Homo sapiens: one gene and its partners. The protein of the gene in region 1 purifies or fractionates together with the protein of each later gene. This does not show direct contact. Each region holds a gene or a part of one and is shown in the gene's direction. Other genes may lie near its edges.

Region 1 (3,959 bases):
CCTGGAACTACAGAATAAGTTCCAAAATTGGGTGTCTAAGAACTCTGAATACCTCTCCAATATTTACCAGTGGTCAAGTCAAACTCGTTTTGCTCATTAATGGTATAAGTCGGCTGGAGCTGAGAATTGGCATTATAGAGAATGTTTTTGAGACAGAGTCTTGCTCTGTCACCCAGGATGGACTTCAGTGGCATGATCTCAACTCACTGCAACCTCTGCCTCCTGAGTTAAGTGATTCTGCTGCCTCAACCTCCCGAGTAGCTGGCGTTACAGGTACCCGCCACCATGCCTGGATAATTTTTATTTTTTTTAGTAGAGATGGCTTGCACCATGTTGGACAGGCTAGTCTCAAACTCCTGACCTCATGTGTTCTTCCCACCTTGGCCTCCCAAAGTGCTGGGATCACAGGTCACTGCACCCAGCCTAGAGTATTTAATATACATTCATATAAAAAAGAAGCACTGGTTTCATAAAACAAATGTACATTATATGAGATTCCACTTCATAAAAGCATGTATGTGTACCCCAACACTAAATTGGCCCTTTTAACAAAATATCAGACTTTGTCCTACTTAACTGGAAAGATTATCTATATTTTATAAAGAAGAGAAATAACATAATAGTAAGGCTGTGATTTCCTCTTTTTTGCAAAAACTATTTTTGAAAAGTATTACTGAATTGATAACATATATATGGAGAGATTTAAAATACTAGATAAGGGAGCTTATTCCAATGAATTTACAGAAAGGTAGGTATTTTAGTCAACTAAAAATATAAATAAAAATTATCAATTCACTTATTTGGATACAGCAGTCATGCCAGAGTTTATAAATATAGTGAAATCACTGAAGATTTTTTTTTACCCCCAAAACTGAAAAAAATGGCAGTGTACCTTGTGAATTTTTTAAATGAAAAAAGAATACGAAATGATGAAGGCCCTTATCTGATGATGACAAACTAGAAAACTGAAATGTAAAGGGGAAAATGTGAGTATGTGTTTCCCTCCAGCAAATTAAAGACAGGGTACATAGATTCAAGAGGTTGCGCTTTGAGGATAAAAAGCTGGGCCCTGTGCAGTTTTCCAAGACAACCTCTGGGCGCCGCTGTCGACCAAAAGGAAGTGAAGGCTTCTCAATTCTGCAGGAGCGTCAGGCAGGGTGCCTTCCTGCTTTGTCCGGTGCACTGAGCACAGACGCTGCTCCTGTTCACCCTCGAGCGCCTAACTAATAAGTCCTAAGCTCAAATCACAGAAGTCCAGGGTGCTGCCATTTCTTTTTGAAAAACATCCCAGAGGAAAGAAGCTCCGCGGAGAGTTCCTGAAATGCAGAGAGCCAGAGAAGCCGAAATGATGAAAAGTCAGGTACTGTTTCCCTTCCTGCTGTCTTTGTTCTGCGGGGCCATCTCCCAGCAGATCCGATACACGATTCCAGAGGAGCTAGCCAACGGCTCACGGGTGGGGAAACTTGCCAAGGATCTGGGGCTCAGTGTCCGGGAGTTGCCAACTCGAAAACTGCGGGTTAGTGCAGAGGATTATTTCAACGTTAGTTTGGAGAGCGGGGATTTGTTAGTGAACGGTAGGATAGATCGAGAGAAGATTTGCGGAAGGAAACTTGAGTGTGCACTAGAATTCGAAACGGTCGCTGAAAACCCAATGAATGTTTTCCACGTGGTTGTTGTAATCCAAGATATTAATGACAATGCACCACGTTTCGTTGCAAAAGGCATTGACTTAGAAATTTGTGAGTCAGCCTTACCCGGGGTAAAATTCTCTCTGGATTCTGCTCAAGATGCAGATGTGGAAGGCAATTCACTGAAGTTATACACCATCAACCCCAATCAATACTTCTCTCTGTCAACGAAGGAAAGTCCTGATGGAAGTAAATATCCGGTATTACTGCTGGAAAAACCTCTAGACAGGGAACATCAGAGCTCTCATCGCTTAATCCTGACTGCCATGGATGGCGGGGACCCGCCTCTAAGCGGCACCACCCATATCTGGATCCGAGTTACGGATGCCAATGATAATGCTCCCGTGTTTAGCCAGGAGGTATACAGGGTTAGCCTCCAAGAAAACGTACCGTGGGGAACCTCCGTGCTGCGGGTGATGGCCACAGACCAGGATGAGGGCATTAATGCAGAGATCACCTATGCCTTCCTCAATTCCCCAATAAGTACCAGCCTCTTCAATCTCAATCCAAATACTGGCGACATCACAACCAATGGCACATTGGATTTTGAAGAGACAAGTAGATATGTGTTGAGTGTGGAAGCTAAGGATGGAGGAGTACACACAGCTCACTGTAATGTTCAAATAGAAATTGTTGACGAGAATGACAATGCCCCAGAGGTGACATTCATGTCCTTCTCTAACCAGATTCCAGAGGATTCAGACCTTGGAACTGTAATAGCCCTCATAAAAGTGCGAGACAAGGATTCTGGGCAAAATGGCATGGTGACATGCTATACTCAGGAAGAAGTTCCTTTCAAATTAGAATCCACCTCGAAGAATTATTACAAGCTGGTGATTGCTGGAGCCCTAAACCGGGAGCAGACAGCAGACTACAACGTCACAATCATAGCCACCGACAAGGGCAAACCAGCCCTTTCCTCCAGGACAAGCATCACCCTGCACATCTCCGACATCAACGACAATGCACCTGTTTTCCATCAGGCCTCCTATGTGGTCCACGTGTCTGAGAACAACCCACCTGGCGCCTCCATTGCACAAGTAAGCGCCTCCGACCCGGATTTGGGACCCAACGGCAGAGTCTCCTACTCTATTCTGGCCAGTGACCTGGAGCCGCGGGAGCTGTTGTCCTACGTGTCCGTGAGCCCGCAGAGCGGGGTGGTGTTCGCGCAGCGCGCCTTCGACCACGAGCAGCTGCGCGCCTTCGAGCTCACACTGCAGGCCAGGGACCAGGGCTCCCCCGCGCTCAGCGCCAACGTGAGCCTGCGCGTGTTGGTGGGCGACCTCAATGACAATGCGCCACGGGTGCTGTACCCCGCGCTGGGGCCTGATGGCTCCGCCCTCTTCGATATGGTGCCACGCGCCGCAGAGCCCGGCTACCTGGTGACCAAGGTGGTGGCGGTGGACGCAGACTCAGGACACAACGCTTGGCTGTCCTACCACGTGCTGCAGGCCAGCGAGCCCGGGCTCTTCAGCCTGGGGTTGCGCACGGGTGAGGTGCGCACAGCGCGTGCCTTGGGCGACAGGGACGCGGCCCGCCAGCGCCTGCTGGTCGCTGTGCGTGATGGAGGACAGCCGCCACTCTCCGCCACCGCCACGCTGCACCTAATCTTCGCGGATAGCCTGCAAGAGGTATTGCCAGACCTCAGCGACCGCCCTGAGCCCTCTGACCCCCAGACGGAACTGCAGTTTTACCTGGTTGTGGCCTTGGCCTTGATCTCAGTGCTCTTTCTCCTCGCGGTGATTCTAGCGATCGCCCTGCGCCTGCGACGTTCCTCCAGCCTCGACACTGAGGGCTGCTTTCAAACCGGTCTCTGCTCCAAGTCTGGGCCCGGGGTTCCTCCCAACCACAGCGAGGGGACTTTGCCCTATTCCTACAATCTATGTATTGCCTCTCATTCTGCAAAGACAGAGTTTAATTCTCTCAACCTGACACCGGAAATGGCTCCCCCTCAGGATCTGCTGTGTGATGATCCTTCTATGGTTGTATGTGCCAGTAATGAAGATCACAAAATCGCTTATGACCCTTCTTTGTCTTCGCACGTGAGTTTCTGCAAATCTAGTTAAATTTTATATATGGCGGCCGGGCGCGGTGGCTCAAGCCTGTAATCCCAGCACTTAACCAGGCTGAGGCAGGTGGATCACTTGAGGTCAGGAGTTTGAGACCAGCATAGCCAAGATGGTAAAACCCGGTCTACTAAAATTACAAAAATTAGTTGGGTGTGGTGGCACGCGCCTGTAGTCCCAGTTACTCAGGAAGCTGAGACAGGAG
Region 2 (3,500 bases), on another chromosome or scaffold:
TCTTTTGAGATGGAGTTTCGCTCTTGATGCCCAGACAGGAGTGCAATGGCACAATCTCAGCTCACCGCAACCTCCCCCTCCCAGTTTCAAGTGATTCTCCTGCCTCAGCCTCACGAGCAGCTGGGATTACAGGAATGCACCACCACACCCAGCTAATTTTGTATTTTTAAGAGAGTCAGGGTTTCTCCATGTTGGTCAGGCTGGTCTCCAACTCCTGACCTCAGGTGATCCACCCACCTTGGCTTCCCAAAGTGCTGGGATTATAGGCATGAGCCACTGCACCCACCTAGAAAAAAATCATTACATTTTTAAAAATTAAAAATCCAGTTCCTCAGTCACACTAGCCACATTTCAAATGCTTAACAGCCACGTGTGTCCAGTGGGTACCATAATGGGCAGCACACCTAGAAAACATTCCCATCACAGCAGACGTTCATCTTTGGGCCCCCAGTGTCTAACCTGGTGCCTGCCACATAGTAGACAATACTGTTTGAGGATCTGGATCGCAACATTTTATAGGTTCTATAAGGAAACTTTCTACTAAAACAAGTAAATTGCTGAGGGTCACACAGAGATTTCAGGTCCATGTCCCTTCCAGGTTAACATTCCATGACTGCCCAGCTTTCTCCCCAAGGCATCACCCTCCCTGGCCTTCCAAAGTGGCCTGACCTCATGTCCCCCTTTTCCTTAGATAATGGGTTTCTGCTCTGGTCCCTGGGGATCCCTGTCCATGGTCAAGCCACTGCAGCCCCTCTTTCCCTCCAGGTGCCCGCTCCCAGCCCTTGGTGCAGTTCCAGCGCCGGGCTGCCCGCCTGCCTGTCAGCTCCACCTACAGCCAGCTCTGGGCGTCACTTACGCCTGCCAGCACCCAGCAGGAAATGCGGGCTTTCCCTGCCTTCCTGGGCACTGAGGCCTCCAGCTCAGGTAGGCTGGGTGCCCAGCACGGATGGGGTCTCCCCAGGCTCAGGATCAGCCCTCAGCCCTGTACCCTCTTCCCTCAGGCAATGGCTCCTGGCTGGAGCTGATGCCCCTGACTGCTGTGAGCGTGCACCTGCTGACAGGTAATGGGACAGAGGTGCCGCTCTCAGGCCCCATTCACCTGTCCCTGCCCGTGCCCTCCGAGACTCGTGCCCTCACCGTGGGCACCAGCATTCCAGCCTGGAGATTTGACCCCAAGAGTGGTAAGTGCCTCAGGGGGCTGCAGGTGCTTGAGTTGAGAGAAGAAAGTGGGACTTGAGTGGGAGCGACTCAAGTGTGACAAAACCCCTGCCTCTCCCAGGGCTGTGGGTGCGCAATGGCACTGGTGTAATCCGGAAGGAAGGCCGGCAGCTCTACTGGACCTTCGTCTCCCCCCAGCTGGGGTACTGGGTGGCCGCCATGGCCTCCCCCACGGCTGGTAAGAGTAGTGGGGCAGTGGGCGTAGAGGCCGCGGAGGAGGGGAGCTGGGAGAGCAGACTTCTGAAAGGCAGGAAGGGTGTCTACACCTGAACGCTAAGCCCTCGCCTGGCACAGGGCTGGTCACCATCACGTCGGGCATCCAGGACATCGGCACCTACCACACCATCTTCTTGCTCACCATCCTGGCAGCCCTGGCCCTGCTGGTGCTTATCCTGCTGTGTCTGCTCATCTACTACTGCCGGTGAGCACGGGGCTTCCCTCACCCTCCCCTGCACTTGTACCGGGCCCTGGGGCCCCAAAGATGCATAAAATCCACTTCTGGTCCTCAAGGGGCAGACAGGAAAAGACTTCCTGCAAACATGCTAAGACCTGAAGGGCTGGTGCTGGTGGTTGAAGACAGCGGGGAGGTGGGAGGGGAGGCAGGGCTTAAGGACTTGCAGCCCGGCCCCTCCAGAGAGATCTGCCACTGCCCCTACCAGCCCAGCTCTCTCTCCCAGAGGACTCCAGGCCGGACACACCCATAGACAGCTTAGATGCTCATCCCTGGTTCTCGCAGCACATCCTACATGCAGAGGAGTGCAGAGTTGACCCTGAGGGGATCGCCAAACGGACACGGCGGCTCCCCGCCATCTCTCCTGAGCGCCCCAGGCATTCTCCCCACCTCTTCCACTATATTCGTCTCTTGTCTTGCATCTAAGGGGGTTCGGGGCCTACTTTGGCCCTCACCCTTTCCTGAGCGGCCCCTTCTGCTCCCTCCCTTCCAGGAGGCGCTGCCTGAAGCCGAGGCAACAGCACCGCAAGCTGCAGCTCTCGGGGCCCTCTGACGGTAACAAACGAGACCAGGCCACCTCGATGTCCCAGCTCCACCTCATCTGTGGGGGACCCCTGGAACCCGCCCCGTCGGGGGACCCCGAGGCTCCGCCTCCAGGCCCCCTCCACTCGGCCTTCTCCAGCTCCCGGGACTTGGCCTCCTCCCGGGATGACTTCTTCCGCACCAAGCCGCGCTCTGCCAGCCGCCCGGCCGCCGAGCCTTCGGGTGCCCGCGGGGGCGAGAGCGCCGGGCTCAAGGGCGCTCGCTCGGCCGAGGGCCCCGGCGGGCTGGAGCCCGGCCTAGAGGAGCACCGGCGGGGGCCCTCGGGGGCTGCGGCCTTCCTGCACGAGCCGCCCTCGCCGCCGCCGCCCTTCGACCACTACCTGGGCCACAAGGGGGCGGCCGAGGGCAAGACCCCCGACTTCCTGCTGTCGCAGTCGGTGGACCAGCTGGCGCGGCCGCCGTCGCTGGGCCAGGCGGGGCAGCTCATCTTCTGCGGCTCCATCGACCACCTCAAGGACAACGTCTACCGCAACGTCATGCCCACCCTGGTGATCCCCGCGCACTACGTGCGCCTCGGCGGCGAGGCGGGCGCCGCCGGCGTGGGCGACGAGCCGGCCCCGCCGGAGGGCACGGCACCCGGCCCGGCGCGCGCTTTTCCCCAGCCCGACCCCCAGCGCCCGCAGATGCCGGGCCACTCGGGCCCGGGGGGCGAGGGCGGCGGGGGCGGCGGCGAGGGCTGGGGGGCCGGGCGCGCGGCGCCCGTCAGTGGCTCAGTCACCATCCCTGTGCTATTCAACGAGTCCACCATGGCGCAGCTCAACGGGGAGCTGCAGGCCCTGACCGAGAAGAAGCTGCTGGAACTGGGCGTGAAGCCGCACCCGCGCGCCTGGTTCGTGTCCCTCGACGGGCGCTCCAACTCGCAAGTGCGCCACTCTTACATCGACCTGCAGGCGGGCGGCGGGGCACGCAGCACCGACGCCAGCCTGGACTCGGGCGTAGATGTCCACGAGGCGCGGCCCGCGCGCCGCCGGCCCGCGAGGGAGGAGCGGGAGCGCGCCCCGCCTGCCGCGCCGCCGCCGCCGCCCGCGCCCCCGCGCCTGGCGCTCAGCGAGGACACGGAGCCCAGCAGCAGCGAGAGCCGCACGGGCCTCTGCTCTCCGGAGGACAACTCGCTGACGCCGCTGCTGGACGAGGTGGCGGCGCCCGAGGGCCGGGCGGCCACGGTACCCCGGGGGCGGGGCCGCAGCCGCGGGGACAGCTCCCGCAGCAGCGCCAGCGAGCTGCGGCG
Region 3 (2,230 bases), on another chromosome or scaffold:
AAACCCAGATCTCTTAAAAATCCAAAATCCCCCAAGTCAATTTATTCTAGCTATTCTACTCTCCCCTGTAGCATTGCTTTTGGTTCAGAAATAATTGATTTTACGGTAAAGAGTAGAGTCACATGAATTCAGCTGAAAAGTGCATGTCTTGTGAAAACACCAAATCTTAAAAATAATTGTGATTTCGGACTTTAACACAGAATTGAAGGACAATTAATAGTTGACACGATCTGCAAAATGAAAGTGTAATCATAGCATAAACACTTTAATTTTATCTGATATTTGAAATATGCATTTGTGTAACTGCCAAAATATTATCTGCTTTCTGTTAGCCAGAATGTTCCAGGGACAGGAGCAGAACAGCCTTATTTATAAAGAGCAAGCAAAATATATTTTCCTTTGGGAGGGACTTTTGCTGTTGTTAACTAATGTCTGAGAATTTGGGGATGAAAACCTTTGTATTAAACTGGTGCAACATAACTCATGCCATGTAAAAAACACTTTTAACCTTTTTTCCACATGTGATAGCTTTGTATTGCAATTATTACGCATTATTGAAAATTCTATGAGAATTACTTAACTACTTTTTAATAAGTAATATAAAATTTTTCTTAGAAAGGTTTCATTTTTCTCTGCCATATTTTATCTATTTGGATTTTTTACTTCACTCTATGGTAAACATTCATCATTACAGGTTAAACAGTGTTTGGCTTTTAAAAATAAAGACTTTGCCTTGTTGAACAACTCAGGTTTGGGAAGGGCTTTAGTGGTTGCATTTTAATTTTTTTCAGGATTTTTACCCAAAAACATCCGTAAAATTTCATAGTTTATTTTAATTGTTTTGTGTTAAAAGCCTGGGATATTGCTAAGAAGAGAAAACAAAGAATGAATAGATATGGATTTGTCAACTTTACCCACTTATTTTTTATTTCTTGTCATTGAATTGAAATTTTTATAAATTCTTTCCATCTGAAATTGTATCACTTGTAAAGGTTTTTTTCTCAAATAGTACCATCTGATTAGGCTTTTAGATCTTCATATGTTACCTATGCTTTCTCATTAAAGAAAAAATACTATTTCTCTAGAAGCCTGTCCTTTTTAAAGCACAAAGTACACAGCAGGTGTTTGAAAACTTTCCATCTTCCTAGTTATCTTTATCTGTTTGTATAAATTGCTAAATTGCTTTCACAAAATGCCTCTAGACATAAGGGAATTATTTGCATAAGTGGATGAAGATTTTTGTTTTCCATGAAGGAAAGCTTGAAATGGCCTCCTAATTGTTTTCCTTCTTTCTCTTGTTGCAGTATCCGGCTGCTTTGATGAACCTGGGAGCCATTCTGCACCTCAATGGCAGACTCCAGAAGGCCGAGGCCAACTACCTGCGGGCCCTGCAGCTCAAGCCAGACGATGTCATCACACAGTCCAATCTCCGCAAACTGTGGAACATCATGGAAAAACAAGGCTTAAAGACTTCTAAGACCTGACACAGGAGGCAGAAGCCCATCCTCCTCCATTTTTAAAAGCTGGCTTCCTTAGCAGACAGAACTTCCCAGCAGTGCTATGACAAGAGCTGGTGTTAGACTTCAAGACCAGGGCAGAGGTCATTGAGGTCACTACCGCTTCTGGAAGAATCCACTTTGCTGTAGGCACAGCTGTTAACACCAAAAAGGGGAAAGCCGGAAACCTCCTGGAGGATGTCATTGTTACCCATAGACTGTAAACCAGAGCACTTAAAACAGAACCTTTTGGCATTCTTAAAAAGGGAGGGGTGGGTGTGTAAGTCACAGATTTTGTTCATTTTCTGAAAGCTAATTTCAAAATTATGTTGTTCCTTAAACACTGTGAGAGGAAGTCAGAGTGTCCATTCAGGCATGGCAAACAATTAGGGTTAAGTGTTACGAGGGAGTGATAAACACGTAGTGTGAGTCCCAGTGAGCCGCCGGTTGTCCTAACGCTGCTGTCTTCCCTGTTTGGGACAGCCTGCTTATCAATTTCTGAAGCTTAGAACACTTTTTTTAATACTGTGTCAAGATCTGTCAGAATCTGCTATGTTTCTTGACCAGTGCACATAATGTTTTATGATTTGGATGTCAGAGGCTTCATTCTTTTGGACATCATTTGCTTTTTATGTTCTGAAAAGGATATGGAGAGTAGAGCTAACCATACTTCACACTCGAGTTGTATGAGGGACTGGGGAGGCCTTATATGTGTCAGGCAGGCATTTTTTAAA
Region 4 (3,500 bases), on another chromosome or scaffold:
CTCATTGTATTAGTTCATTCTCACACTGCTAATAAAAACATACCTGAGACTGGGTAATTTATAAAGGAAAGAGTTTTAATTGACTCACAGTTCCACAGGGCTGGGGAGGCCTCAGGATCCCTGCAATTATGGCCGAAGGGGAAGCAAACCCGTCCTTCTTCTCATGGTGGCAGGAAGGGGAAGGAGTGCCAAGCAAAGGGGGAAGCCCCTTATAAAACCACCAGATGTCATGAGAACTCACTCACTATCTGGAGAACAGCATGGGGGAAACTGCCTGCATGATTCAATTATCTCCACCTGGTCCTGCCCTTGACATGTGGGGATTATTACAATTCTAGGTGAGATTTGGGTGGGGACACAGAGCCAAACAATATGACTCATGAACCTTCCTGCCTTTCTTAGGAGACACTCATCCCAGCTGCACGTGTAACTTGGTAAGGTTTTGAGGTCATTTAGAAGTAGCCAGGTAAATTATTATTGTCATCTACTCAGATTTATCCTGCAGTCTTCAGCCAACGCTGAATGCCATGGTTGGTAGCATTTCCCAAATGGTGGTAGCATCAGTGAAGTCCAAGAACCAGTTCCTGTGCTGATGTTAAGATTCTTGAAGGACTTAAATAGTAGTATGATACAAATGAGTTACAAGATCATTGAAAATTTTTGTCAGCATTAGGGAACTCTATAATCTACTAATTATTATTATTATTATTGCAAATAATTAGTTTAAATCAAATGGCAATTGTCCAGTCCAGATAAATATTGTTTTTACTACTTCTCCCTTTGGAAAGAGATAATATATTGTGTTCTAATCAAGGAGGACTTGGTTAACAAGGAGCTATCTCCCCGCTTATGTGGGGACAGGAAATATATTGCTGTTATGCTTTGGTGCTTCAGGATCTTAAATGGTTGAGACTGTCATTATGACCTTTGATATATGTTAGAAATGCCCAGGAAGCTGTGGAAGGTGGATTGTCTGCAAGATGTGCAGAATATCCTGGTAGTGTCCACATAATGTAAAAGCACAAGTGTTTGAGCTACTTGTGGTTTTTCTTATTTGGAGTGGAGAAGAGTAAAACAATTTTACTTGCACGCACACACACTATACACATACCCAGATGATTGATAGACATACCAGGGGTTTTGTGCTTACTTTGCCTTCAGCCTCTCAGAGACTGATTACGTTTGGAAAATTGAAATAGCCCAACAGGAACCTTACAGAGGATGTTAACCTCAGAAGCTTTTTAGTTTCTTCTTTTGTATTTGTCCTGTATTTACGTCTTTCAGTAAAGTAAAAACTCAGTTATTGACTTGAATTGCTTTGGAAGCATTGAAGTCTTCCACCAAATTGATTCATTACTGTACTAATTCAGTTCATTCCAGTGGTCTGAATCTCCTATTCCATGGTTTAATCATCACTCTGGCTCCTTCTGCATATGAAGCTATTGCATCTTACTGGTCCTACATTGAAGTGTATTGTATCTGTTTGTACAACCGATCATACATTTTAAGTTTTTATATTTCTCCATCTACCTTGTTTCTTCACAGAGCTACAGGCAACCAGCTGCTTTCATCGTCACACAATACCCTCTGCCAAACACTGTAAAAGACTTCTGGAGATTAGTGTATGATTATGGCTGTACCTCCATTGTGATGTTAAACGAAGTCGACTTGTCCCAGGTTAATGGCTATGGATTGCTTTTATGTACTTATATACAACTTAATAGAGTAGTAATGAATTGCTAAAATCTGCTTTATACTCTCCTAACTAGAAAAAATAATACTCTTTTTTTTTTTCTTTCAAAACGTTCATCATTTAGGGCTGCCCTCAGTACTGGCCAGAGGAAGGGATGCTACGATATGGCCCCATCCAAGTGGAATGTATGTCTTGTTCAATGGACTGTGATGTGATCAACCGGATTTTTAGGATATGCAATCTAACAAGAGTAAGTCACTATCGGATCCTTTGAGCTGATCTAGAATAGGTCAGTCATAACCAAGATGTGGTATAATTTTATTCAGACAACAGGGAGACTACAATTAATAAGCACTATATCATCCACCTCAAAGCTAGTAACCATCTTATGCCTTAGTACTCGAATAAAAATACAGGAAAACAGAAATGCTGGAAGCTAGGTTTTTCGGTCAGTCACTAGACTAGCATATTCTCTCAGGAAATACAGATGCACTGGCTCAGTCAAGTTGGACAGCCTAGGCCTGGCCTCTGAGTGTATGTAGACTTATCTTAAGGATGACTGCATGTTTTATTAGTATTGACATCCAGCCCAGAAATGGCATGTGATAAAAAAAATAAGAACATTGCAATAACAATAATGACAGAGAAACTGTACTGCAGGAGGAAAGAGACATGTTGGATCAACCATTATAGAAGGGTTCCATGTCACTGTTCCAAGTTCATTATTGATTATCCTACCTGCAATTTCATCTTCCTAAACGTCTCAACCTATGGCTCTAAGCAGATCTAAAGGTAGAACCAGTGCTGCTACCACCATGCCTTTTCCCAGCAGCAAAGTAGTAACTGTATCGTCTTTCTCTGACTCCTCATTTGCTTTCCACTACATGACAAATTCAATGTGGGTGGGGAAGATCTTAAAAAAAAAAGTGCTAATAAAGCCCGGGCACAGTGCCTCATGCCTGTAATTCCAGCACTTTGGGAGGCCAAGGCGGGCAGATCATAAGGTCAGGAGTTCAAGACCAGCCTGGCAACGTGGTGAAACCCCATCTCTACTAAAAATACAAAAATTAGCTGGACATGGTGGTGGCATGCCTGTAGTCCCAGCTAGTGGGGAGGCTGAGGCAGCAGAATCATTTGAACCCGGGAGGCAGAAGTTGTAGTGAGCTGAGATCACGCCACTGCACCCCAGGCTGTATAGAGCGAGACTTCGTCCCCCAAAAAAAGATATTAATAAAAACAATTTAGATTATGTAACCAAATAACAAGCAGAATTGGAAAAGAAAACATTAGTAACTTTCATGAAATTAAGCTCTTTTTAGAGAGAAACATTACTCTGTTTTTTAAAGCACCAGCTCTGTGGGTATGTATTTTAAGTGTGTGATTAGGATTATCATGTTTCAGTGTCTCTCATATCAAAATGACTACGTGTGTGTCTGGTTAATAAGTCTATATGTATATAACTATGAGCAGGGAATGGAATCATATCGACTCCTATTGCTCATTTCAGTGGAGAAAAAAAGGATAACTTCAATCATCTCATAATATTCATGCATATCTTAGATGTTAATTTAAATGGAATCTCATTATGTCTGCACATCTGTTACATTATGGTTCTAGTAATATTTGAGTTGGAAAAAAACAGAACTGCTGAAGACAGTAAGGCTTGTCTGTTAATTGAGCAGTTTATGTGAAAAATATTCTAGGAACAGGAACTGAAATGTTATATTTTTGTCAGCATATTTATTTATTTGTTTGCTTACTTATTGAACTGCCTCTGTATTTGGTATTCTGGTCCTTATTAGTACAT
Region 5 (3,500 bases), on another chromosome or scaffold:
TGTTTACTACTGTGTGACCTTGGGCAGGTAGCTTTGCTTCTCTGAGCTTGACATCCTGATATGCAAAGTGGAGTGGGAAAAACCTGCCTCACAAGATTGTGCCACGAGATGATGGGTAGGTAATGTCTCAAATGGAACCCTCATCATGCCAGGCATTCGAAATATGTTGAGCTTCTGCCCTGCTTGTGGGCATCTTAAAGATGTCCCCAGAAGGGGCACATCCTAGTCCAAGGAGGGTGGATTTGATTTGGGAAAATTGGGAGCAGTCGTGCCATAGTGGAGCATATGGGATTGGTGGAGCCTATGGGAGAAGCAGTGAATGGATGACACCGTTTGGGGTCCAAGCACCATGTAGCTTTGAAGGAAGAAAGCAGGTCTCTGCAAGCTTCTGTGCTGCCTCTGAAGGCAGTTTCCTATAAAGTGGTGCCTTTCCTGTGCCGGCTGGGCTACTCTACCGGGCCATGTCTGGCTGCCCCGGGACCATTTTGTGGGAGCCATGGGGGCGTCATCTGGATGAACTCATTCTAGCCCAGCTCTGTCAAACACCTGCCTTGCAGGCCCAAGGGAGCTGTGGAGGCAGTGGGCGGGGAATGCTGTGGCAGCCATTTGGGGTGCCTCCTGCATGCCTGAGGCATCCACGCTGAGTGAGGCCCCCAGGCTCATCCGGAGCAGAGGGTGCTGGCCTCCAGCTCACTGATCCTTCTGAAGTTTTTTGATCTGTGCCCATGGGCAGGGCACGCCATCCTACGTGGGCCTGACTTAGCGTTGATGTAGCGCAGTAGTTGAGGACAACATCTGGGCCCAGGCTGCTTGGGGTCACATCCAATGCCTGGCCGCTGACCAGCTGCATGTCCTTAATCTCCAAGCCTCCGTTCCCTCCACTGTCAAATGGAGATGACAACACTGCCTGCCTCATCAGGCCGTTGTGTCGGAGACTGAACTGTGCGGATTCCAAGATATACATTTTGACATTTCTGAAGCCAGGTTGTGCCTGACAACTGGTGTTACACCACAGTGGAACCAGCCATGCCTTTTATTTCTTAAATATACGTAAAGTAGTGATACAGGTTAGAGTCAAGAAAATATGATAAATAAGATCAGTTTTATAAGGGGCTCAGAACAGAGCCACCAGGCTGGTGGGAAGAAGCCAGGATTGCCACCTGCCTCCCCAGCTCAGTTGCGGTGAGTCCCTCACTGGGTCCTTTGTGTCCACTCTGAAACAATCAGCAAAAGAACACCTGCTTGCCGGAGCAGCTGTGAGAAGTCGGCAAACTTTTGTGTGTATTACGTGACCAGCAGAGTCCCCATATGCAGTAGGTGCTTAATAAATGGCCGTGCAAAACAAACAGCAAAGACCGTAGTACAAGGAGGAATTTAAAGCATAGACTCTGGGATTCTAATTCCTGCTCCACCATTTCCATGCTGTGTGACCCAGCACAAGTTTCTTAATTTCTCTGTGCCTTAGTCCCACCATCTGTAAAATGGGGATAACAAAAGTGTCCAATTCATAGGATTGTTGTGAGGATTAAGTAAAATTAAAGTGCTTAGGACAGCCCTTGGCAGAAGTGTAAGCAATTATTATTTGATGAACTTTAATGAGTCTCTTCTAGTTCAATAAATGATACTAAAATAAACACTAGGCTCAATAAAATAATAGCAGTTGAGGCTGCACTTGCTTTATAGCTGAGAAAACCAAGGGCCAAGAGGCATGCTGGTTTGCCCAGGATCACACAGCCAGCTCCCAGCAGACTGGAACCACAGCCCAATGTCCAGGCACCAGCCCAATGCTGCCTCTTTGCCCATGTTGGTTCAGGACTCTTTCTCTTATGGAGAAAGCAGTTCTTGCCATGGAGAGGAGGGTTTCTAGAAGAAGCCACCAGCAGATACATCACCAGTGCTTCAGGGATCCACAGGGTAATTAGGGCCCTCATTAGAAGTCGTTTCTGTCTTCCCTCAATTTTCTGCCTGACCACCACAAACAGTGGAAGGGGCCTAACTGGGATGCCCACCCTGCCCACAGCTGCCCAAGGTCAGCAGAGCCTGCCAACCATCCTGCAAGCCCACCAGCCAGCACTCTCCTGGCCTCCAAGTGGCTTCTGCAGAGTTGACACAGCAAAATTCCCTCCTGGAGACAGCAAAAGCCGTGGCTGGCCCGTTGGTCCAGCCACCAGACAGGCTAGGGCCACAAAGTGGATTGGAGTTGGGGGGAGGACAAAGACCTGGGTGCAGCCAGCCATGACAAGCACTTCAAGTGACCTTGGACAAGTCACAGTCTCTTTCTGAGCATCAGTTTCCCATCTTTGAAACAAGCCTTTTGGAGCCAGATGGGCCCCCTGAGACTTTAAATGTCTAAAATTCGAAGCTGCCTGGACATTGCTGATGTCCAGGTCACGGGGGAAGGGGCGGGGTTGGAGGGGTGGAGCTAGTGTCTGCGTGTGGAGTGCAATGTGTGTGGATCTTGGGTTGGACTCACTAGGAGCAAGCATGAGACAGCGCTCAGGAGAAAGGGGCTGAAAGGAAACAAGGTAGGGAGAGAAAGAGATAAACAAGCGTGTGGCCTCAGCTGATCCCTTGGGGGATGTGGGGCATGAACTGCGCCCCAGGTTTGGCTCTGCCTTGAAGCAAAAAAGCTGGCCTTTCATACCCCATATCAGATAGTTATTGGCCACGGCTGCCTTCTGAGTGGGATGCTGTGTGCAATTGCCCGGGCAGGAGCTCCTGTTCTTCCCAGGGCAAGCCTGCAAAGAAGGGGCAGCCGGGAGCTCTAGCTCCCAGCAGCTGGGGTGTGGAAGCTGCAGACCGGTAAGGAGGACTAGGGTGGGCACCAACAGTGTCCACTCTGTTATGTGGATTTGGGATGCAAAGGTTGCTGGGTGCCAGTCTCTTCCTAGCAACTATCTGAAGGCAGCAGATTAAGAGCTCTTTAGGCCACTTCTAAATTTATCAACTTACATGACTCACTTCAGATTAAAATGAAGCCCTTCTCCCCATCCCACCCCCAGCCAATTTCAGATTTCTGAGCTCAGAGCATCCTGAAGAGGGCATAGAATGCAAATCAATAAAACCAGTATTAGCTAAGTATTTGGTGTGGACCAGGCTGTTTGTCGGGCTCCTTGCTGAGCTCAGAGATGAATCAGCTCCAGAAACAACTCCTGCTGGGAGGCGGAGGCAGCCCCAGGTAGAAGGTGGTATACGACTGCGGGTGCCCTGCCTGGGGGCTAGGCCATGAATAACTTCCAGGACCAAGACTCAGCCTCACCACCACAGTATTTAGAGCTTCCAGAGCCTCAGTTTCCTTATCTACAAAATGGGGTCAGTGTGGTGAAGAGTATGTGGCCTGGGCCACTCCTGCACTCAGGGAGTAGCAATAAAATTAAGCGAGACCTGGCACTGGGACCCAGGGCTGTTTCTAGGCACTTCTCTGCCCTCTCAGAGGCCTGAGTCTGCCCCATGACCTCAGGGGAAGGAAATTCTGAGCTGAGTGGAGACATCAGCTTCCC
Region 6 (3,500 bases), on another chromosome or scaffold:
GGGCTTTCCCCGACTTCCATCCTCACCTCCCTTCTCTAAAGAGGTAAAACTGGCCTGGACCAAGATCTGCCCAGATAGAAAGCCAAGAAACAGGTTCTGAAACTTTTCTTTTCTTCTTTTCTCTTCTTTTTTCTTTTCTTTTCTTTCGGAGACAGTCTAGCTCCGTCACCCTGACGGAGTGCAGTGGTGCAATCTCGGCTCACTGCAACTTCTACCTCCCAGGCTCAACCAATGATCCTGCCTCAGCTTCCGAAGTAGCTGGGATTACATGTGCCCACCACCCACGCCTGGCTAATTTTTGTATTTTAGTGGAGACGGGGTTTCTCCAAGTTGCCCAGGCTGATCTTGAACTCCTGACCTCAGGTAATCCGCCCGCCTCGGCCTCCCAAAGTGCTGGGATTACAGGCGTGAGCCACCGCGCCTGGCCTGAAACAGCATTTCAGTTCCTTCTGGAAGAGGGGGAGAAGCTGGAGCAGAGGGAACTGACCGAGTGGGTCCTGAGTGGGCTGTGTTTAAAACTGGGAGTGACCCAGGCCAGCTCACGCCTGTCATCCCAGCACTTTGAGAGGCCAAGGTGGACTGATCACATGATGTTAGGAGATCGAGACCAGCCTGGCCAACATGGCAAAACCCCGTCTCTACTAAAAATACAAAAATTAGCCGGGCATGTTGGCACATTCCTGAATCCCAGCTACTCGGGAGGCTGAGGCACGAGAATTGCTTGAACCCAGGAGGTGGAGGTTGCAGTGAGCTGAGATCGCGCCACTGCACTCCAGCCTGGGTGACAGAGTGAGACTCAACTCAAAAAAAAAAAACAGAGGTGGGAGTGTGAACACAGGCAGGAGCTCCAATTCCTGACCCCAGCGCTGTCCTGACCCAGATGGAGTGCTGCTCTCACATCTCAGAGACTTCGCACTCAGCCCTGCCCTGCCCTGCCCTGACAGGCAGCCAGTCATCGTGGGCAGCAGGGCCATCTACTTCCCCCACTGCGGCGTCAGGGGTGGCCAGAGTGTGTGGAAGTGGAAAGAACGTCCTCTCAAAATGCAAGAGGCCAGAGGATGGTTCACTGCTCGTGTGTTCTGCTAGCTAGAATTCTGTGTACCTTGTAATTTGGGGAGAGGGGTTAGAATAAATTTGTAAATGAAGCTGATTATCTTCAAGTTGATGCATTCTTTTTTCATATTTAAAAAGTCCTTGGGACTGGGCGCAGTGGCTCACACCTGTAATCCTAGCACTTTGGGAGGCCAGGGTGGGTGGATCACCTGAGGTCAGGAGTTCAAGACCAACCTGATCAACATGGTGAAACCTCGTCTCTACTAAAAATACAAAAATTAGCTGGGCATGGTGGTTGTGCACCTGTAATCCCACCTACTCGGGAGGCTGAGGCAGGAGAATCTCTTGGACCCGGGAGGCGGAGGTTGCAGTGAGCCGAGATCATGCCATTATACTCCAGCCTGGGTGACAGAGCGAGACTTCATCTCTAAATAAATAAATAAATAAATAAATAAATAAGGTCCATGTCAACCTTAGGAAAAATATCCTTTATTTATTCTTTCACTCAAAAAACTCACTGAGGTGGTCCCGCACCGGGACATGGACCCAGTGTCCTTGGTAGGGCGTCTCCCGCAAAAAAAAAAAAAATAAAAAAAATAAAACACAAAACTCACTGAGTTACCCACTCTCTGCCCCACCCTATGCTGGGGTCACAGTGGTGACAGAGACAGCCCCAGCCCTGCCGTCACCGGGTCTTACAGATGCTCACACGTACATTTCTTTTCCAGTGTTCCCTGCCCCACCCCATAGTTGTTTAGGAAGCAGGGGCTGGGCTGAATCCGGAATCCTCCCTCTGGAGTGACTCAGGACTATAAACCCATTCATCCCAGCTCACAAAACCCTGGGAGGTGCCCTGAGGGCTGTGCCCCTCCCATCTCCTGGCAGGCCCTGCTGTCCCTCTTGTTGGTTTCTCTGTAGGGCAGGCCATTGCCTGGAGGGAGGCAAAATGGCTGAGAGCCACCCCAGGAGAAAATGGGCTTTACATAAGCCCCAACCTGATCTATTGGCTCACGGAGCTACTCCTGGGCTGGTCGCTGTGTTGCTGAGTGGCAGGCTTGGGTCCCCCAGTGGCAATGGCTTGTAGCTGGAGTCGGTGTGGACAGAGAGAGGAGAAGCATGGCAACTCTGAGTGTACTGAGGATCAACTGCACCAGGCTCCATTCTAGTAGCTGGGAGCCAGTTGGGAGCAAGCAGAGGCCCTCACTGGAGCTGACATTCTAGTGCCAGAGACCGGCAATAAAGAAGGAAAGAGTGGCCAGGCGTGGTGGCTCACACCTGTAATCTCAGCACTTTGGGAGGCCGAGGCGGGCCAATCCCCTGAGGTCGGGAGTTCGAGACCAGCCTGACCGACATGGAGAAACCCCATCTCTACTAAAAATACAAAATTAGCAGGGCATGGTGGTGCATGCCTGTAATCCCAGCCACTCAGGAGGCTGTGGCAGGAGAATCGCTTGAACCCGGGAGGCGGAGGTTGCGGTGAGCCAATATTGCACCATTGCACTCCAGCCTGGGCAACAAGAACGAGACTCCATCTCAAAAAAAAAAGGAAAAAGCTAATCCAGCATAGGGTGATGAGGACTGAGAGGAATGGAGGCAGGGTAGGAGTTCCGGACTTACGGGCACCGCTGATCTAGACAGGTGGGCAGGGAGGAGGCAGCGCTTCAGATGGAGGGAGATAGGAAGAGGGCTGTGAGTATCTGTGAAAGTCCTAGGACAGATGTGGCCTTGGCCTGTTCCTGGAACAGCAAGAGTTTCTGGCTGTCAGAATAGAGCAGAGGCTCGCTGACCAAGGCCTTTGGGCCAAATCAAGGGGACCCTTGCTTCCTGTCTTTGTAAATAAAGACTTATTGGAACCCAGGCGCTCATTCGTTTGCATATTTTCCACAGTTGCTTTTGCAGTACAGTGACAGAGCTGAGTATTTGCACAGAGATCCTAGGGCTCTCGTACTCTCTGGCCCTTTACAGAAAAAGTTTACCATCCCCTGGAATAGAGTAAGCGAGGGGAGAAGTTAGGTGAGGGGGCCAGGCAAGCAAAGGCTGCCCCTTGCCTTGATTGGCACAACTGTGGAGGTCATCCCAGCTCTGGAGCCCCAACAGGATCACTCAGGCCTCTGCTTCCACCACATCTGGCTTCAGCTTCCCCCTCTGTGGAGTCCTCCCTCCCTCCCTCCTTCCCCATAGGAAATGACCCCAGTGCTCAGCAGTAACCCCCACTGCGCGCAGATCTCAGAACCTCCACCTCAATCTACAGCCACGTGCCACAATAAGAAGCAGAGTTTTAGGCCAGGCGCGGTGGCTCACGCCTGTAATCTCAGTACTTTGGAAGACCAAGGTGGGAGGATCACTTGAAGTCAGGAGTTCGAGACCAGCCTGCCCAACATGGTGAAGCCCCGTCTCTAATAAAAAGAATACAAAAATTAGCCGGGTGTGGTGGTGCACATCTGTAA
Region 7 (3,500 bases), on another chromosome or scaffold:
TCATCAGGGGACTCTGACAATTCTTTCTCTCAACTCCTCTCTTTTGGGTTACTACCAGTGCCTTGCCAACAATAGCATCGGTGCCATTGTGAGTGGCCCTGCGACAGTATCTGTGGCAGGTGAGTTTAATTTTGTCCCTGTTAGGTATGGGTTTTCTTGAAATTACTGTTAGTGCTTATATTTCTGAAGAGGGGAAAGACCATGGGCTTTGGTGTAAAGCATATAGGAGTTTTTATCTCAGCCTTGACTCTTGCTGTGAGTATATTGTGGAAGTGCACTTAGACCTCTGTGAGCCTGGCCTCATGCCCTCATCAGTAACAATGATATGGAAATGATTTTTTTAAAGTTACGCAGTTAGGACAGTTTTTTTTTTTTCTTTATAATCTCTGCAGCTTTGCCAGGGAAGGACACTTTTTAAATGTGAATTCTGAACAATTTCTTTGTGAGTGCTTGGAAATCCATGATATCATTAACAACAAAAGCTGTTGTCTACTCTGACAGTTATTTCCTGGAGTCCTTTGTCTTTCTTTCACATCTAATTGTTTTATTTGCCTTGATTACTGAGTGATTTTAATATATTTAATTGAAGCCATGGTTAAAAAGCAGGAAAAAAGTAACTGTAAAGAAAGGAATGTTGAGTATTGAACTTACGGAAAATCTGGAATGCGTGGTTTTTCTTAGTAAGTTGGAGCCATCTGCGTTTCAAACGGTGATGGCTTCCAGTAATGGAAAACGTCTTTGTAAGGGCACCCCTATTTACAGAACAAATCTGGATTCCCCAGGAGTAGTGAGTTTGTCATAACTGAGAAGAGTAAATGTTTTTGTAGAGCTGTGACCCATGGACAGCTGTAAGACACACACTGGAGGGCTGAATTCCTCGTGGCAGGCTGCTGAGTGCTTTGAGCCCTGGAGATAATAAAGAGTCCCCTGCAGGCTCCGTCCGTAGTGAACTGAGACTGAGAGGAATTGAGACCAAGTTAGTAGATTCAGATAATCTAAATAATGATATCCTTCCTTATTTTTTTGATGTCCTAGGTTCATTCCAGAAATCATTTTATTGCAATGTGAATAGCTACAAACAGATTAAAGATCCGTAGGGAAAGTGAGTTTTGATGGGGCACTGGATTGAAAAGGATTTATCTTGACTGAATGGGAATAATTATGCTTTATGGTTCTAGATGTCTTAGGAGCAGTTTATATTTATTCCCTAGAAGCATTGACTTATGAAAAAGGGTGCCGTGACTTCGGTCTTAGCCCTCAACCATGCACATGTGCCCCAGCTGCTTTCTTTTCTTTTTTTTCTTTTTTTTTCTCTTGAGACAGGGTCTCACTCTGTTACCCAGGCTGGAGTGCAGTGGCTCTCCACTGCTTGGCTCATCACAGCCTGAACCTCCTGGGCTCAAGCGATCCTCCCACCTCAGCCTCCTGAGTAGCTTGCCCCAGCTGCTTTCTGAGATGAAAAGATCATGCAGCCCTCTGGACTGGGGTCAGCTGCCACAAAAGGCCGTGCTGCAGATGTTGTTTCTAATTTGTAAATTTCCTTTGGGAAAAAGAATTCAAATTTGCATGTATTTATTTATCTGTTTCCTTATATATTTCAGTTCTTGGTGATTTTGGTTCATCCACAAAGCATGTTATTACAGCAGAAGAAAAAAGTGCTGGTTTCATTGGCTGCAGGGTACCGGAGAGTAACCCCAAAGCTGAGGTGCGCTATAAAATCCGGGGAAAATGGCTGGAACATTCCACAGGTGAGACCTTTTGTGAAAAGCCGGTGGCACACACAGAACAAATGCTCATTAAATAAGCTACTTCTAAGCTCTGTGTGCTAGGGACGAACTGTGGATACAAGAAGGCATGAGTGGAGAGGACTAAAACAAATGGTTACAATATACAAATAATTACGGCCCCATACCCTGAGGCCTCACTCCCTCAGTTCCTTCAGACCCCCATCAGATTTCACTTCCTTGGAAAAGATAGCCCTCATGGTCCTATCTAAAATAATATGCCTGGTGCTCTCTGGCCCCTTTATTTCGTTTTGCTTTTCTTTATAGAATTGATCACACCTGATACTGTGTTATTCATATTTCTGTTAGTTTATTATTGTTTGTCTTTTCCTCTGACCTCCCCACATACCCCTACTGGAATGCCGGCTGCATGCATGCAGGGTTTTTGTCTGCTCTTTTCCTTGCCGTAGCACTTGTGCCTGGCCATTGTTGGCAGAAAGTAGCCCCTTAATATGTATTTGTGGAAAAAAAATGAATGACTAGACAGTGCAGGAACACCATGTGACCAGTGCTGTAGCTAGAGGTTTGCCAAAGTCAAAGCATGTTTCTTGTGCTTTGAGATTCACTACCGTTAACATGCTTCTGCTGGGTTTGGTTTGCTATGCTAGTTCTGTAGACTTTTTTTTCTATTCTGCCTTGACTTTCCCTTTCCTTCATTTAAGAAATTTTCCTTGATTGCTTCTTTACCGCTAATCTCATGTCTAAATGTAACGCAGGCTGGCCGGTGGCTCACGCCTATAATCCCAGCACTTTGGGAAGTTGAGGCAGGAAGATCACTTGAAGCCAGGAGTTCAAGACTAGCCTGGGCAATATAGTGAGACCCCCATCTCTACAAAAAATTTAAAAATTAACTGGGTGTGGTGGCATGCACCTGTAGTCCCAGCTACTTGGGAGGCTTAGGTGGGAGGACCGCTTGAGTCCAGGAGTTCCAGGCTGTAGCGAGCCATGCTTATGCCACTGTACTACAGCCTGGGTGACAGAATGAGACCCCCATCTCTAAAATAAAATAAGATGGAATAGAGCATAATGATCAGCCTTTGTGAGTTTTAGTTGTGCTGTGGTGTCCTTCATAAAGGGAGAGGCCTAACTGCACTCCCTTCCTTCCTCAGAGAATTACTTAATCCTTCCATCAGGAAATCTTCAGATTTTGAATGTATCCTTAGAGGACAAGGGATCATACAAATGTGCAGCTTATAATCCTGTCACACATCAATTAAAAGTTGAACCTATTGGCCGAAAGCTCCTTGTGAGTCGTAAGTATTTGGGAGAATAATGGTAACTGGAAGAGGAAGAGTCCTCATAAAAAGTTGGGCAATGATAGTTCATTTTTTTTTCAAATCCTGTTTGTTTATCATAAAAAGTCTTACCAAAAAAGTAAATACAGGCTAGGTGTGGTGGGTCACCCCTGTGATCTCAGCACTTTGGGAGGCTGAGGCAGGTGGATCACCTGAGGTCAGGAGTTTGAGACCAGCCTGACCAACAGGGTGAAACCCTGTCTCTAATAAAAATACAAAAATTAGCTGGGTGTGGCAGCACATGCCTGTAGTCCCAGCTACTTGAGAGGCTGAGGCAGTAGAATCGCTTGAACGTGGGAGGCAGAGGTTGCAGTGAGCTGAGATTGCGCCACTGCACTCCAGCCTGGGTGACAGAATGTGACTCTGTCTTAAAAAAAAAAGTAAATACATGAATGCATTATAGAAGAGTTCTGTACATGCT

What was found.
Region 2: the proteins of PCDHGB1 (region 1) and FAM171A2 purify together in Homo sapiens (co-immunoprecipitation; 3 studies listed by BioGRID and IntAct, with this or other methods). This does not show direct contact.
Region 3: the proteins of PCDHGB1 (region 1) and TMTC2 purify together in Homo sapiens (affinity purification with mass spectrometry; 2 studies listed by BioGRID and IntAct, with this or other methods). This does not show direct contact.
Region 4: the proteins of PCDHGB1 (region 1) and PTPRK purify together in Homo sapiens (affinity purification with mass spectrometry; 2 studies listed by BioGRID and IntAct, with this or other methods). This does not show direct contact.
Region 5: the proteins of PCDHGB1 (region 1) and ATP2B2 purify together in Homo sapiens (affinity purification with mass spectrometry; 2 studies listed by BioGRID and IntAct, with this or other methods). This does not show direct contact.
Region 6: the proteins of PCDHGB1 (region 1) and OPA3 purify together in Homo sapiens (co-immunoprecipitation; 3 studies listed by BioGRID and IntAct, with this or other methods). This does not show direct contact.
Region 7: the proteins of PCDHGB1 (region 1) and CDON purify together in Homo sapiens (affinity purification with mass spectrometry; 2 studies listed by BioGRID and IntAct, with this or other methods). This does not show direct contact.

Annotation. Positions count from the first base shown.
Region 1 is NC_000005.10:141,348,940-141,352,898, forward strand, and holds the start of PCDHGB1 (protocadherin gamma-B1 isoform 1 precursor), read left to right. Parts: upstream 1-1,159; 5' UTR 1,160-1,321; coding exon 1,322-3,730; coding exon of another isoform or gene 3,731-3,754; intron 3,755-3,959. UniProt on the Homo sapiens protein: Potential calcium-dependent cell-adhesion protein. May be involved in the establishment and maintenance of specific neuronal connections in the brain.
Region 2 is NC_000017.11:44,353,854-44,357,353, reverse strand, and holds part of FAM171A2 (protein FAM171A2 precursor), read left to right. Parts: intron 1-765; coding exon 766-924; intron 925-1,001; coding exon 1,002-1,181; intron 1,182-1,279; coding exon 1,280-1,396; intron 1,397-1,512; coding exon 1,513-1,639; intron 1,640-2,162; coding exon 2,163-3,500.
Region 3 is NC_000012.12:83,130,906-83,133,135, forward strand, and holds part of TMTC2 (protein O-mannosyl-transferase TMTC2 isoform 1 precursor), read left to right. Parts: intron 1-1,304; coding exon 1,305-1,484; 3' UTR 1,485-2,230. UniProt on the Homo sapiens protein: Transfers mannosyl residues to the hydroxyl group of serine or threonine residues.
Region 4 is NC_000006.12:127,975,100-127,978,599, reverse strand, and holds part of PTPRK (receptor-type tyrosine-protein phosphatase kappa isoform b precursor), read left to right. Parts: intron 1-1,545; coding exon 1,546-1,677; intron 1,678-1,817; coding exon 1,818-1,943; intron 1,944-3,500. UniProt on the Homo sapiens protein: Regulation of processes involving cell contact and adhesion such as growth control, tumor invasion, and metastasis. Negative regulator of EGFR signaling pathway. Forms complexes with beta-catenin and gamma-catenin/plakoglobin.
Region 5 is NC_000003.12:10,495,587-10,499,086, reverse strand, and holds part of ATP2B2 (plasma membrane calcium-transporting ATPase 2), read left to right. Parts: intron 1-3,500. UniProt on the Homo sapiens protein: ATP-driven Ca(2+) ion pump involved in the maintenance of basal intracellular Ca(2+) levels in specialized cells of cerebellar circuit and vestibular and cochlear systems.
Region 6 is NC_000019.10:45,546,803-45,550,302, reverse strand, and holds part of OPA3 (optic atrophy 3 protein), read left to right. Parts: 3' UTR 1-3,500. UniProt on the Homo sapiens protein: May play some role in mitochondrial processes.
Region 7 is NC_000011.10:126,017,867-126,021,366, reverse strand, and holds part of CDON (cell adhesion molecule-related/down-regulated by oncogenes isoform 2 precursor), read left to right. Parts: coding exon 1-119; intron 120-1,601; coding exon 1,602-1,748; intron 1,749-2,893; coding exon 2,894-3,037; intron 3,038-3,500. UniProt on the Homo sapiens protein: Component of a cell-surface receptor complex that mediates cell-cell interactions between muscle precursor cells. Promotes differentiation of myogenic cells.